Linked DNA regions of Homo sapiens. The protein of the gene in region 2 purifies or fractionates together with the protein of the main gene of each other region. This does not show direct contact. Each region holds a gene or a part of one and is shown on either strand. Other genes may lie near its edges.

Region 1 (7,668 bases), on a different chromosome or scaffold from region 2:
CCAGAAAAAATATAAAAACTGTTTCTGGGTTTGATCCCTTTGAGGTCATTAGTCTTCAAAAGAAAGGATGATTTGACACCGTATTTACTTATTAATTACTGTCCTTGTCATTTATGAGCCATTCCTCCTTCTTCTCCCCCTTGAAAATTCCTAGTCACTCCCTCTGTTCCTCCAAATCTAATTGCTGATAAATCCCTTTCAGGTCTCTCTTCTATAAAGTCTTCCAAAACCCAGATAGCCAACCACAACCCACCATCCCCCTGAAATCTTGTTGCTCTCATCCATGCCACACATCTGGAATTTGCTATATCTACTGGTATTTGACATGTATAAAATCTATTTCTGCCGGGCGCGGTGGCTCACGCCTGTAATCCCAACACTTTGGGAAGCTGAGGCGGGCGGATCACTTCGGGAGTTTGAGACCAGCCTGACCAACATGGAGAAACCCCGTCTCTACCAAAAATACAAAATTAGCCGGGAGTGGTGGCACATGCCTGTAATCCCAACTTCTCGGGAATCTGAGGCAGGAGAATCACTTGAACCCAGGAGGCGGAGGTGGCGGTGAGAGGAGATTTGCGCCATTGCACTCCAGCCTGGGCAACAAGATTGAAACTCCGTCTCAAAACAATAAATAATTTTTTTTTTGAGACGGAGTCTTGCTCTGTCGTCCAGGCTGGAGTGCAGTGGCCAGATCTTGGTTCACTGCAAGCTCCACCTCCCGGGATCACGCCATTCTCCTGCCTCAGCCTCTCGAGTAGCTGGGACTACAGGTGCCCACCACCACGCCCGGCTAATTTTTTTGCATTTTTAGTAGAGACGGGGTTTCACCGTGTTACCGAGGATGGTCTCGATCTCCTGACCTCGGGATCCGCCCGCCTCGGCCTCCCAAAGTGCTGGGATTACTGAGGTGAGCCACCGCGCCTGGCCTATATCTAAACTTCTTAAGCGCAAGGATTATATTCCTAAATCCTGGTACTAATAGAATGCCTTTCATGAAAATGATGCATACCACCTGAAGAATGCTCACACGGTTTTTCAAATTCTTTTATATACATTTGAATTTCACCACTACCCTGACAGGAATAATGACTCCAATTATCCTATTTTACAAAAGGGAAAAAAAATTCAGAGGCTGAGTAACTTGTCAAAGTTCTCAACTAATCTTGAAGATTTATTTACACTAATAAACATATATATAGCAAATTCAGAAAATTTCCTGAACAGTAGAGGTCTATAAACCTCGATAAAGCAGTAAATCCATGTTCTTTATTGTTACCAAGAAAACTACTAAATTAAGAACCTCAAGTTCACCTCCGTTCAACTGTGCAAAACCAACTTTGTCCTTGGAGCCCTTGAAAAAAAATTTTTTTTAAACTGTCAACACAGCAAATGTCACTACAAGAACACTACCCTCAACTTCTAAAACATGAAATTCTAATAAAATACTACGGTTTCTGTTTAGTGCAAAAGATTTCAGCTTCAAGCCACACTATTACAAAACTTGTAAGCATTTTGCAAGAGCCATGTGACACACATATGACAGTCAGCTAAACTGGTGGGTGGACCTTTTAGGGGAAAATGTCTAGCAGTAATTGACCAAACCAGCAAATAAACTCAACTTTTACAACAAATACTGATGTTCCCCCATCCCTCAAAGGCCTTTGACACTGAAAAGGAATACCAATTCGGTCTCTTCCAATTATTCATTACTTTACATGCATGTAAACTGTAGAGGAAATTTTTAAAGGGCCATTGAGGAGAGCCCAACAAACTCTACCCAAGGGAAGTGAACACCAGTTCCCAGGAAAGGTGCCAGGTGTGTCACATCTGCTGTGGTGACTTCTTGAGTAAGCAAGAAAAAGAAATGCATTAACTTTTCATGACACGTCATGGAACCTCATTCCCTATCTGCAAGCATCCAAGCAGGTAATCCAAAACCTACATACAGATCTATCATAGGTCCCGTTCGTTTCTCTTTCAACTTGACAGCAAGCTTCCTTTAATCTGCGAGTATCAAAAAGACATTTCTTGGCTTTAGTTTTTTTTTTTTCCCTTGACCCACAGAAGACAAAATGACTTAGGTGTCCTCTTTAAAAAAAAAAAAAACAAAATTCTCACAAATGCCCAGGTTTTTATAGGAGGGCAATGGACCCGGCGAGCTCTTAAACAACTCCTCCAAGACACAACTCAAAAAGAGAACTAATAAATGTTCAGTTGCTTCTCACCATCTACTCATTCCCCTCAATCCCACGCAGTCCCGAAAAGCATCCATATTACCTGAAACCTGGCGGGGAGGATGGAAGGAGAGAGAGCCAACAAGCTCAGGATTTACAAGTAAAGCTGGTTTCTACCCCGAAGATCCTGACAGCTCCGCAGAGTGCGGGCGCAGGGTCTGACAGTGCCCTCTAGAAGGGCTCTCCCACCCCATCCCCTCCCCTTAGAGACAAGTCCTCCTTCAAAAGTCACTGCCTCCGAGAGAAGATACCCCTTCACACCGCCCCAGGCCCCTCGGCAGGCTTCCTCAGCACCCGCCCCGCAGTCAGGCCCTCTAACCTGACCCGGTCCAGGCCCGGGCGGCTCACCCCTCCGGCCCGACCCCTCCCCCGCGCGGCCGCCCCTCCGCGTCAGACAATGGGGCCCGACTCCCGGCCGCCAGCCTCTCCTGACCCATCACCCTCGCCTCACCCCAGCCGATGCCCCGACTTCTGCCCCAACCCTCCTCGACCCCTTTAAGATCCCCCAAGCTGGCCCACGGACCCAGCCGACCGGTGCTCTCCTGAACTCACTATTCGGGATTCATGCTGGACATGTCACTGCAGCTGCCGCCGCCGCCACCGCCGCCCTTGCTGCCGCAGCCGCCGCCCTGACTCTCCGCGCCACGGGTAATCGAAAGAAAGGAATGAGATAGGCTGTTCCGGGAGAGCAAACGTCTTCCCCTACTCCGTCCCCTAGAACACAATCAGCAGCCGCCGCCACTCAGCTATCGCTTCCACCCAAAATGGCCGCCGGCGAACCAGGAAATAGGGAAGCCTTAGACCGAGGGGCCTTTACACGGCCCAGAGGGCGGCCGCACCGCCTGGCATGCCGGGAAAGGGAGTCGCGAGCGCGGCTACGCGAGCTGAGGACAGACAGTGCGACGCAAGGCCAGGACTCAGCTTCCCGCCAAGCGCCGCGCCTCTGGGGCATGCGTACCTGAAGGGTTGTCGCCCGCCCCATTCCCCACTCCCTCACCTCCCCACCCTCGGCCCCTCCCTGCTCCCCTCCCCTCTGACTCGCTGGCTAGGACTTCGCTCGGACTCCCCCTGGCGGATTGGCTAAGGCCGAGCTGCCCTAGTGATGTCATCAGTGAGACGTGGCAGCCGGGCGAGTCAGCGCCCCACGGGGGAGGGGGCGGAGAGGGGCGGAGGGTGGTGCCGGCGGCCGACGGAGGCTGGGGGTCGGGGGAGGCAAGGGACCGGGGGGAGTGGTCAAACCGGAGGGACTGCCGGGGGTGCGGGGGCGGGGAGGGGGCCGGGGTACGAGCGTGTCGGCTCCTGCCTCCGTTGCGGCTGTTGCTGACCTGACCAGCTTGAGGCTTGCGCCACCCTGGTGGCGCTGGTTGGGGGCTGGTAGGAGGACGTCCGCTCTAAGAACAGAAGGGAAGTCAAGGGGCTCCCTGGACGGCACGGAGCGGTTCTTCTCGTCACTCACCCATCCCCACCTGGGTTCGGTCATCGTCCATTGTTGGCCCCGCGCACTACCATTTTCTTCTTAGATTTCTTCCCATTCTTACTGTGCCCCGCTCTTAACTCGTCAGCCTGGCTATTGCAGTAGTCTCCAAATGGACTCTACCTCTCTCTCTCCTCTCCGCCCCAGCCCATTTGCACACACAGTCGGATGTATCTTTCTGAGACAGCACCTGCATCGTGACCCCACAACCTTCAATGGCTCCACATCCCATGGATGGGAGGGACACAGCCCAGAGCCAGCCTAAAATCCAATTCCTACCTTCGTCCCGGCCTTCAGGTTGAATTGTAATGTATTATCTTTTAGTTGCTACTAACCCTGAGCCATTCTGCAAGACTGGAAAATAATAAGCAATAAAAATAGGCAATTCATCACTATATAGTGCCTACAATTTCTGGGAGTAATATTAACTCATTTTTAAAAAACCTATGGCCTTAACAGCTCTCTTTAATCAGCTCAGGAATTTAAATCTCCGCTAAACTTTAACACATTATCTTGAGTTATTTAATTACAAAGGGCATAGTGTAATACATTGTCCAAAGTTTATCTTCCAACTTCTAAGAACTAAGAAAATTGTCTCCTGAGACTTACTGCAGAATCACTTTAAATTCCTACAACGCCAAAATATAGAAAGAAGGCACTTATTTCTACCCATACACTAATTACACCCCTTAGCCCTCAAATTCTGCCATGGGCCTTAGTTGATGAACTTATCAAAAGTTACCCGAGTTTGGTTTCTGAAATGAACATGTTGGTTTCTGAAATGAACACGGTCACCACCCCAGGAATACCCTGAATGGTTCAGTAATAGGCACCAAAAAGTGTTCGTTACCCTGGACTCTAAAGCCCATTAAAAAAAAAAAAAGCTTATTTTGATTTCAAATAAAAACTCAGAAAACTGGCCAGGCTCGGTGGCTCATGCCTGTAATCTCAGGAATTTGAGAGGCCAAAACGGACAGATCACGAGGTCAGGAATTCAAGACCAGCCTGGCCAACATGGTGAAACACTGTCTCTACTAAAAATACAAAAATTAGCCAGGCATGGTGGCGCGTGCCTGTAATCCCAGCTACTCGGGAGGCTGAGGCAGGAAAATTGCTTGAACCCGGGAGGCGGAGGCTACAGTGGGCCGAGAGGCCACTGCACTCCAGCCTGGGCGACAGAGCAAGATTCTGTCTTGAGGGGAGAAAAAAAATCTCAGAAAACTGTGACCTGAGTCACTAGTAAAGGCACACACACACACACACACACACACACACCCCCAAAAAACCCTCAGAAAACTGTCCAGAACTCGTCCTCAGCCAAAAATACAATCTGTCCTCCCCTGGGAAGTATACTCCCAAACTTCCTTTAATTAACTATTTTCTTTCCCAACAAAGAATTACCCCCTGCCAGGCGCAGTGGCTCACGCCTGTAATCCCAACACTTTGGGAGGCCAAGGCGGGCAGATTATGAGGTCAGGAGATCGAGACCATCCTGGCCAACATGGTGAAACCCCGTCTCTGCTAAAAATACAAAAATTAGCTGGGCGTGGTGGCGTGTGGCACGTGAGATTACAGAATCTCAGCTACTCGGGAGGCTGAGGCAGGAGAATGGCTTGAACCAGGGAGTCAGAGGTTGTAGTGAGCCGAGATCGCGCCACTGCACTCCAGCCTGGCAACAGAGCGAGACTCAGTCTCAACAACAACCACCAAAAAAAAAAAAATTACCTCCTAGTAGCTTTTAATCTAAGTGACAGGATAGCTGTAAGCGTTGAATAAACACAATGTAAAGCATATAGTACAATGGCTTTGGGACCCTTGGTAAATGTTAATTACTTTTCTCTGTAGGAGAGCAAAAAAATGACTTCCCTCCACCCTGCTAGGTTCCTTGGCTAGTTTATGAACTAAATTAACCTAAGACAGATTAACAGGAGAAAATCATATTTGATTAAGTACATATGCATGGGAGTTCCTCAAAATAAGAGACTCCAAGAAGGGTCTGATGATTGAAGCATCCTGAGCTACAGAAAAGAATACGGCTTGGTGGCCGGGTGCAGTAGCTCACGCCTCTAATCCCAGCACTTTGGGAGGCCAAGGCGGGTGGATCACGAGGTCAGGACATCAAGATCATCCTGGCTAACACGGTGAAACCCAGTCTCTACTAAAAATGCAAAAACAAAATTACCTGGGCGTGGTGGCGGCTGCCTGTAGTCCCAGCTACTCGGGAGGCTGAGACAGAAGAATGGCGTGAATCCGGGAGGCGGAGCTTGCAGTCAGCTGAGATGGCACCACTGCACTCCAGCCTGGGCTACAGAGCGAGAGTCCATCTCAAAAAAAAAAAAGAATAGGGCTTGGTGCCGGGCGCGGTGGCTTACGGCTTACGGCTGTGATCCCAGCTCTTTGAGAAGCCAAGGTGGGTGGATCACTAGAGGTCAAGAGTTCGAGACCAGCCTGGCCAACCTGGCGAAACCCTGTCTCTACTAAAAACACAAAAAATTGGGCAGGCACAGTGGCTCACGCCTGTAATCCCAGCACTTTGGGAGGCCAAGGCAGGTGGATCATTTGAGGAGTTCAAGACCAGCCTGACCAATATGGTGAAAACCCGTCTCTACTAAAAATACAAAAATCAGCTGGGCATGGTGGCACATACCTGTGATCCCAGCTGCTCGGGAGGCTGAGGCAGGAGAATCGCTTGAACCTGGGAGGCGGAGATTGCAGTGAGCCGAAACTGTGCCACAGCACTCCAGCCTGGGCAACAGAGCGAGACTCAATCTCAAAAAAAAAAAAATTGAAAAAATTAGCCAGGCATGGTGGCGGGTACCTGTAATCCTAGCTACTCAGGTAGCTGAGGCAGGAGAATATCTTCAACCCGGGAGGTAGAGGTTGCAGTAAACTGAGATCACACCACTGTACTCCAGCCTAGGTGACAGAGCAAGACTCCATCTCAAAAAAAAAAACAAAACTGGGGCTTGGGGCCTTCGGAGAGGTAATGATAAGCTACAGGAGGGCAAGAGGGGAAATGCATGGTAAAGAAAGATTGTCCTGCCATGCAGATAAAAAGTCTCTCAGGTAATAAAAGTTATCTTGAGGCAGCCCTCTCTCTGATATAGATACGTTACTAATGTAGATTTCCTTTGTAGACATAAACTTATTTTACAAAAGGACAGCTTTTCAGAGCTACTCCTGTGTCTACAGTTTCTTAGAATAACCAGCTCAAAATATGCCACCAAAGAAGAATATTTTAGGAGAGCATATTCTGGTCCCCCAGAGTGATATTTGAGGTGGTATGTCCTGGTCCCCAACATCTACTTCTCTCAGCTTCTCTGAAAGTCTTAAGTGTACCTGCTGTGTACCAAGGACAGAAAGCCTCATAGCTTAGCTTCCGTGTTGTAGAATATTATGCGAAGAGGTCAGAGGCAGCTTAGCCTGGGAATGGTAGGTGGGTGTTTTCTACCCCCACTGAAATTTATGTGCAATTACATTAAGACTTCCTTTCCAAATTTAAAGTGGCTAAAAATTAAACTTTTTAAAAGTTTTGCTGACTCAAACTTTAATATATATATTTTCGTGTGTGTTTTTTTGTTGTTGTTGTTGTTGTTGTTTTGAGATGGAGTCTCACTCTGTCTCCCAGGCTGGAGTGCAGTGGCACGATCTCAGCTCACTGCAACCTCCCCTCTCCCGGGTTCAAGCTGTTCCCTGGCTTCAACCTCCCGAGTGGCTAGGATTACAGGTGCGCACCACCACATCCAGCTAATTTATTGTATTTTTAGTAGAGACCAGACGGGCTTTCACCATGTTGGCCAGGCTGGTCTCGAACACCTGACCTCAGGTGGTCAGCCCGTCTCAGCCTTCCAAAGTGCTGGGATTACAGGCGTGAGCTCCTGCGCCCAGCTCAAATTTTAATATATATTTTATGTTTAGGTTTTTAGAAGTAGTTACATTTCTAGCTCAAGTGAATAACTC
Region 2 (7,069 bases):
ATACACAATGACACAACCACTCCAGAACACTGTTTTACAGTTTCTTATGAATTCAGACTTCTATCTGCCACATTAGTCAGCAATTTCACTCCCAGTATTTACCCAAAAGGAAATGAAAACCTATATCCCCACAGAAAGTGTTTTACATAAAAATTTCACAGTGCCTTCATTCATAATAGCCAAAAACTGAAAACTAACTAGATGTCCACCAAAAGGAGAATTATATGCTCATATAATTCATACAAAGGAATTCTACTCAACAATTAAAAAAAAAGAATTGGCCAGGCACAATGGCTCACACCTGTAATCCCAGCACATTGGGAGGCCAAGGTGGGTGGATCACTTGAGGTCAGGAGTTCAAGACCAGACTGACCAACATGGTGAAACCCCATCACTACTAAATATAAAAAATTAGCCGGATGTGGTGGTGCATGCCTGTAATCCCAGCTCCTTGGGAGGCTGAGGCAGGAGAATCACTGGAACCCAGGGGGTGGAGGTTGCAGTGAGCTGAGACTGCACCACAGCACTCCAGCCTGGGCAACAAGAGTGGAACTCCATCTCCAAAAAAAAGAATTACTGACACATGCATCAATATGGATGAATCTCAAAAAATGAAAAAGACACAAATGAGAACATATTGTATTATTCCTTTTACATGAACTTTGAAAACAAGCAAAAGTAATCTATAGTGACAGAAATCACAGAGGTGGTTGCTGGGGATGGGGGGCAGTATTCATTATGAGGTGACACAAGGGAACTTTATGGGGTGAGGAAAATGTTCTATACCTTCACTCAGGTTTTAGTTAAACCCAGGACAGGGATAGGTCTATAAATTTATCAAACTGATTTTTTTTAAAATATATATAGTTATAAAATAAAAAATATAAGAATAGCTACTTCTGCTCGCTTCTGGTGTCCATTTACATGAAATATATTTTTCCACCCCTTTACCTTAAATTTGAGTCCTTTTGTGTCTGGTGAATCTCTTGAAGACAGCAGATACTTGGTTGATGAGTTCTTATCCATTCTGCTATTCTGTATCTTTAAAGTGGAGCATGTAGGCCATTTACATTCAACATTAGTATTGAGATTTGAGGTACTATTCTATTCATCGTGCTATTTGTTTGCCTGAACACCTTGTTTTTTTTCTTCATTGTGTTATTGTTTTATAGGTCCTGTGTGATTTATGCTTTAAGGAGATACAATTTTGGTATTTTGAGAATTTGTTTCAAGATTTGGAGCTCCTTTTAGCAGTTCTTGTAGTGCTGGCTTGGTAGTGGCAAATTCTCTCAGCACTTGTTTGTGTGAAAAAGACTACTTTCCTTCATTTATGAAGCTCTGTTTCACTGGATACAAAATTACTGGCTGATAACTTAAGGAGGCTCAAGATAGGATCCCAATCCCTTCTAGCTTTTAGAGTTTCTGCTGAGAAATCTGTTAATCTGATAGGTTTTCCTTTATAGGTTACCTGAGGCTTTTGACTCACAGCTCTTAAGATTCTTTCCTTCATCTTGACTTTAGTTAACCTGATGACTATGTGCCTAGGTGATGATCTTTTTGTGATGAATTTCCCAGGTGTTCTTTAAGCTTCTTGTATTTGGATGTCTAGATCTCTAGCAAGGCCGGGGAAGTTTTCCTCAATTAATCCCTCAAATTTGTTTTCCAAACTTTTAGATTCTTCTTCTTCCTTGGGAACACCAATTATTCTTAGGCTTGGTTGTTTAACAAACTTATTGGAGGCTGCGTTCATTTTTTTAAATTCTTTTTTGTCTTTGTCAGATTGGGCTAATTCAAAAGCCTTGTCTTCGAACTCTGAAATTTCTTTCTTCTACTTATTCAATTCTATTGCTGAGACTTTCCAGTGCATTTTGCATGTCTCTAAGTGTGTCCCTTGATTTTCAGAAGTTGTGATTATTTATTTATGCTATTTTCCTGGAAATTTTTCCATTCATATCCTGTATCACTTTTTTTGTTTTGCTAAGTTGGACTTCACCTTTCTCTCGTGCCTCCTTGATTGGCGTAATAATGACCTTGTGAATTCTTTTTCTGGCAATTCAGAGATTTTTGTCTTGGTTTAGATCCATTGCTGGTAAGCTAGTGTGACCTTTTCAGAGTGTCAAAGAACCCTGTTTTGTCATATTACCCCAGTTGTTTTTCCAGTTCCTTCTCATCTGGATAGACTATGTCAGAGGGAAGATCTGGAACTCAAGGGCTGCTGTTCAGATTCTTTTGTCCCACAGGGATGCTCCCTTGATGTGGTGCTCTCCCCTTTCCCCTAGGGATGGGGCTTCCTGAGAGCCAAACTGCAGTGATTGTTATTTCTCTTCTTGATCTAGCCGCCCAGTGGAGATAATCAGGCTCTAAGCTGGTACTGGAGAGTGTCTGCAAAGAGTCCTGTGATGTGATCTGTCTCCAGGTCTCTCAGGCGTGGATACCAGCACTTACTCTGGTGGAGGTAACAGGGGTGTGAAGTAGATTCTGTGAAGGTCCTTGGTTGTATTTTTGTTAAGTGCGCTGGTTTTGTATTGGCTGGCCTCCAGCCAGGAGTTGGCACTTACAAGAGCACATCAGCTACAGTTGTATAAAACTGGATTTTTTTTAACTGAAGATCCATGCATATCATTATATGTTAATTTTATTTCAATAAAAATAAAAAGCATCTTATTACTCATAGACTGATCTCATCTCATTATTTAAACTATATCTCATATACACATTATGTTGAAGATGAGGTTTTGGATCACTGAGGTTTTAAACACAGGCTCTTACCTTGCAAATCCTTGGGGCAGTTCTCCAAGGCCATAGAGTGGATAAAGGTATGGGCTTTTGCCATATCTTGCCAAAGATTCACTGTAAAGTTTAATTCTATTAATGGTTTCATAACACGGTTGATCTAAGTAACTGGAAGAAAGGAAATGAGTATTAGGAAAGGGCTTTAGTTTTCATTCATGGTGTTCAATTTATAATTTTTTTTGAAGCGATTTCAATCCGCTATCTTCTTTTTTGTTTTTTTGTTTTTTGAGACAGGGTCTCACTCTGTCGCCCAGACTGGAGTGCAGTGGTGCAATCTCGGCTCCCCACAACTTCCACCTCCCAGGCTCAAGTGATTCTTCTGCCTCAGCCTCCCAAGTGGCTGGAATTACAGGGACGCACCACTACCGCCCAACTAATTTTTGCATTTTTAGTAGAGAGGGGGTTTCACCATGTTGGCCAGGCTGGTCTTGAACTCCTGACCTCAAATGATCCACCCAACTTGGCCTCCCAAAGTGCTGGGATCACAGGCGTGAGCCACCACACCTGGCCCACTACCTTTATATTTAAATCACTTAAAAGGTCCCAACACTAATTTCAACTAGAACCTCTTCATTCATAGTGCAATATGGCTAAGTATTTGTTTTGTTAGAATTTCCACTTGGAAGACTTGGGAAATTTAGTGAGAATTTCAAGAAAAATACAAATCTAAAAACCAAAATACTTACTCATCAGTTCTGTAAAGTGCAAGAGCATGACCAGTAAAATCTATAACGTCTTGACCCAAATCAAATTTCTTATACACATCTCGCATTGTGGTCTTCTTAGGATCAATGCCTTCAAAAGTTCTTGGATCTTTTTCATCGAAGTTGGCAACATACACTAGGAATTTCCTGAAGCGACGTTTTTCAAACAATCCCATTAGGCCTAAATAAAAAAGAATTTTTCAAAAAGCACACTCACAATCAGACATTGAGGAGAACGAAGTATGAGAGCAAAGTTTAAACATGCCTTGTTATCAACTGCGGAATGCAGGATGCAATTTTTTTTTTTTTTTTTTTTTTTGAGACAGAGTCTTGCTCTGTCGCCTAGACTGGAGTGCAATGACGCAATCTCAGCTCACTGCAACCTCTGCCTCCCGTGTTCAAGCGATTCTCCTGTCTCAGCCTCCCGAGTAGCTGGGATTATAGGCAACCGCCATTACGCCCAGCTAATTTTTGTACTTTTGGTAGAAACAAGGTTTCACCATGTTAGGCTGGTCTCAAACTCCTGACCTCAGGTGATCCGCCCACCACGGCCTCCCAAAGTGCTGAGATTACAGGCATGAGCCACCGCGCCTAAAATGCAGGATGCAATTTAAGATATGGGAGTTTGGACAGCATGGCTTCCAGTTTCACAACACCTTAAACTGACACGATTATAACAGGTTACTTATAAAGTCTTCAATTCTACCATACAATTACAAGTAATTAAAACTACTACTTAACTGAATGAAAAATGTCAAATTATGTTTCTTACTAGGTACAAGGTAAATGTGACTCTGAACAAGTATCCATGAAGCCACCCATCTGAAGAGTCTCCCTTTGACAACTCTGATCTACACTCAGCCAATTGCCTAAATTCTGAATGCTCTTGCTTTTCCGCCTCTGTATGCTAAGATACAACCGGGCACTTAATGATAACAGCTTAAGATAACAAGAACAAATTGACCTCGATAAAATTTCGATGCTGCTGCTACTGCTGCTAGTCACTTATTTTACTGAAGTCCTACATAAGCAACCAATTCGCTGCATTTTACACTAAAAAACAGATGAAGAAGCTACAAATTACCACTTTATAAATCCTCAGCTTTTATTACTAGGCTGTATTTCAACTAATCATAGATGATAGACAAATAGCCAACAAAAAAGAAAATTTTCTGATTTTATCTCCCTTCTCCCCCCATTCCTAAGCTGTACAGCTATTTTTAAAATACAACTACAGTTTTAAAAACAAACTCTCAAATGTTTCTATTGACAGCTTAATGTTTTGATAGATTTAATATTACATCCAAGATCATTTTCCAGCCAACAAAACTGAAAATTAAAACCATGAGGCTGGTCAGGTCGTAGTGGCTCACGCCTATAATCCCAGCACTTTGGAAGGCTGAGGAGGGTGGATCGCTTGAGGTCAGGAGTTCAAGACCAGCCTGACCAACATGGTGAAACCCCATCTCTACTAAAAATACAAAATTAGCTGGGTGTGGTGGCGCACGCCTGTAATCCCAACTACTTGGAAGGCTGGAGCAGGAGAATCGCTTGATAAACCCAGGAGTCAGAGATTGCACTGAGCCGAGATTGCACCATTGTACTCCAGCCTGGGCAACAAGAGTGAGACTCCGTCTCAAAAAAAAAAAAGAAACATGAGGCTATTAATGACAACTGACTACATTTAATTTTTTAAAATTAAGATTTACAATTCAGCCTTTTAAATGGACAGAATGTACACACAGTAAAGGCATAAGGCTGAATAGAAATATCCTATTACCACATCAGCACTATACTTAAGACACAAGTGTAGTTGTAAGAGCTGGGTATAAGACAGGCAAAAGGAAACATGAATCACTATTTCAATGCACTTAAAACTTAGGTATCATATTCCGGTCGGCACAGCCTGTCAGAACTTAAAGCTATTACTAACAGTTATTTTGGAGTATCTCCCAACTTTTGTTTATTTAATAGAAACCTGAGTTGCTGTTACCAACTTTTGTTTTAATCAAAATAAAAATCTATCATGTTTCCTTCTCTTTCCTCTCCTTTATTTTCCTCCATTACCTGATCCTTACCCAGAGAGGGATAGAAATCAGTGCCACTCCTGTTTTACACAGCACAGTAGAGACGTCCTGGCTGTTTTTCCATCCCTTAATTCCATGTTGCTATGCATGGCGCCAAATAGTGATCTCAATGACTAGCTGTTAACAGCATGAGAACCAGATATAATTGTATTACAAATACTTCAAACACCCAGTGCTCATTCTGAAAAACTCCTAATTGAAAAAGTTCAAATCAATAACGTGTTTCCTACTGTGTTTTTTTTTTTTCCATAGAAACAAGGTCTCGCCATGTTGCCCAGGCTGGTCTCAAACTCCCAGGCTCCTAAAGTGTGGAATCACAGGTGTGAGCCACTGCACCTAGTCCCTACTAGGTAGATAATTTTTTACAACTACTATTTATCTATGCTGATGCCTTCCCAGATCACTTTATTTAAAGCGTCCTTCTCACACTCCCTCCTTCCTCTTTCCCCCACAGCAATGGATCACCATGGGATATGCCTTTCTGTATTTACAGTTGTCCCTTGAATAACACATCTGAACTGCCACTTTTTATGTAGATCAGAGGTGTCCAATTTTTTGGCTTCCCTGGGCCACGTTGGAAGAAAAAGAATTGCCTTGGGCCACACATAAAATACACTAACGATAGCTAATGAGCTTTAAAAAAATTGTGAAAAAAAATCTCATGTTTTAAGAAAGTTAACAAATTTCTGTTGGGCTGCATTCAAAGCTACCCTGGACCACATGCAGCCCATAGGCCACAGACAGGACAAGCTTGATGTAGATTTTTTCTTGTCAATAAATGTACTGAAAAAATTTTTGGAGGTTTGCATGTTTTTTTTTTTTTAAAAGGAGTCTCACTCTGTCGCCCAGGCTAGAGTGCGCAGTGGCGCGATTTCGGCTCACTGCAACCTCTGCCCCTGAGGTTCAAGCAATACTCCCACCTAAGCATCCCGAGTAGCTAGGATTAAAGGCATGCACCATCAGACCTGGCTAATTTTTTTTTGTATTTTTAGTAGAGATGGGGTTTCACCATGTTGGACAGGCTGGTGTCAAACTCCTGACCTCAAGTGATCCGCCTGCCTCAGCCTCCCAAAGTGCTGGGATGACAGGCATGAGCCACTATGCCCAGCCAGGTTTGTTTTTTCTTTCAGTTCTACGTTTTATTTTACTTGATTTTTTTTTTTTCCTTTTTGAGATGAGATCTCTGTCACCCAGACTAGAGTGCAGTGGCGCAACCACAGCTCACTGCAGCCACCAACTTCCTGGGCTCAAGCAATCTTCCTGCATCAGCCTCCTGAGTAGCTGGGACTACAGGGTATTCAGCTAATTTTTCTTCTATTTCTTGTAGATACAGGGGTCTTACTATGTTGCCCAGGCTGATCTCGAACTCTCGGGCTCAAGTGATCCACCCACCTCAACCTCCCAAAGTGCTAGGATTACAGCCATGAGCCACAGTAGCCGGCCAAATGATTTTTTTTTTAAGAGATAGGGTCTTGCTATATAAGG

What was found. Proteins that work in one complex are often made in the same cells at the same time.
Region 1: the proteins of GDI2 (region 2) and RAB1A purify together in Homo sapiens (affinity purification with mass spectrometry; 7 studies listed by BioGRID and IntAct, with this or other methods). This does not show direct contact.

Annotation. Positions count from the first base shown.
Region 1 is NC_000002.12:65,127,107-65,134,774, forward strand, and holds the start of RAB1A (ras-related protein Rab-1A), read right to left. Parts: upstream 3,001-7,668; 5' UTR 2,810-3,000; coding exon 2,787-2,809; intron 1-2,786. UniProt on the Homo sapiens protein: The small GTPases Rab are key regulators of intracellular membrane trafficking, from the formation of transport vesicles to their fusion with membranes.
Region 2 is NC_000010.11:5,782,373-5,789,441, forward strand, and holds part of GDI2 (rab GDP dissociation inhibitor beta), read right to left. Parts: intron 3,679-7,069; coding exon 3,480-3,678; intron 2,902-3,479; coding exon 2,770-2,901; intron 1-2,769. UniProt on the Homo sapiens protein: GDP-dissociation inhibitor preventing the GDP to GTP exchange of most Rab proteins. By keeping these small GTPases in their inactive GDP-bound form regulates intracellular membrane trafficking.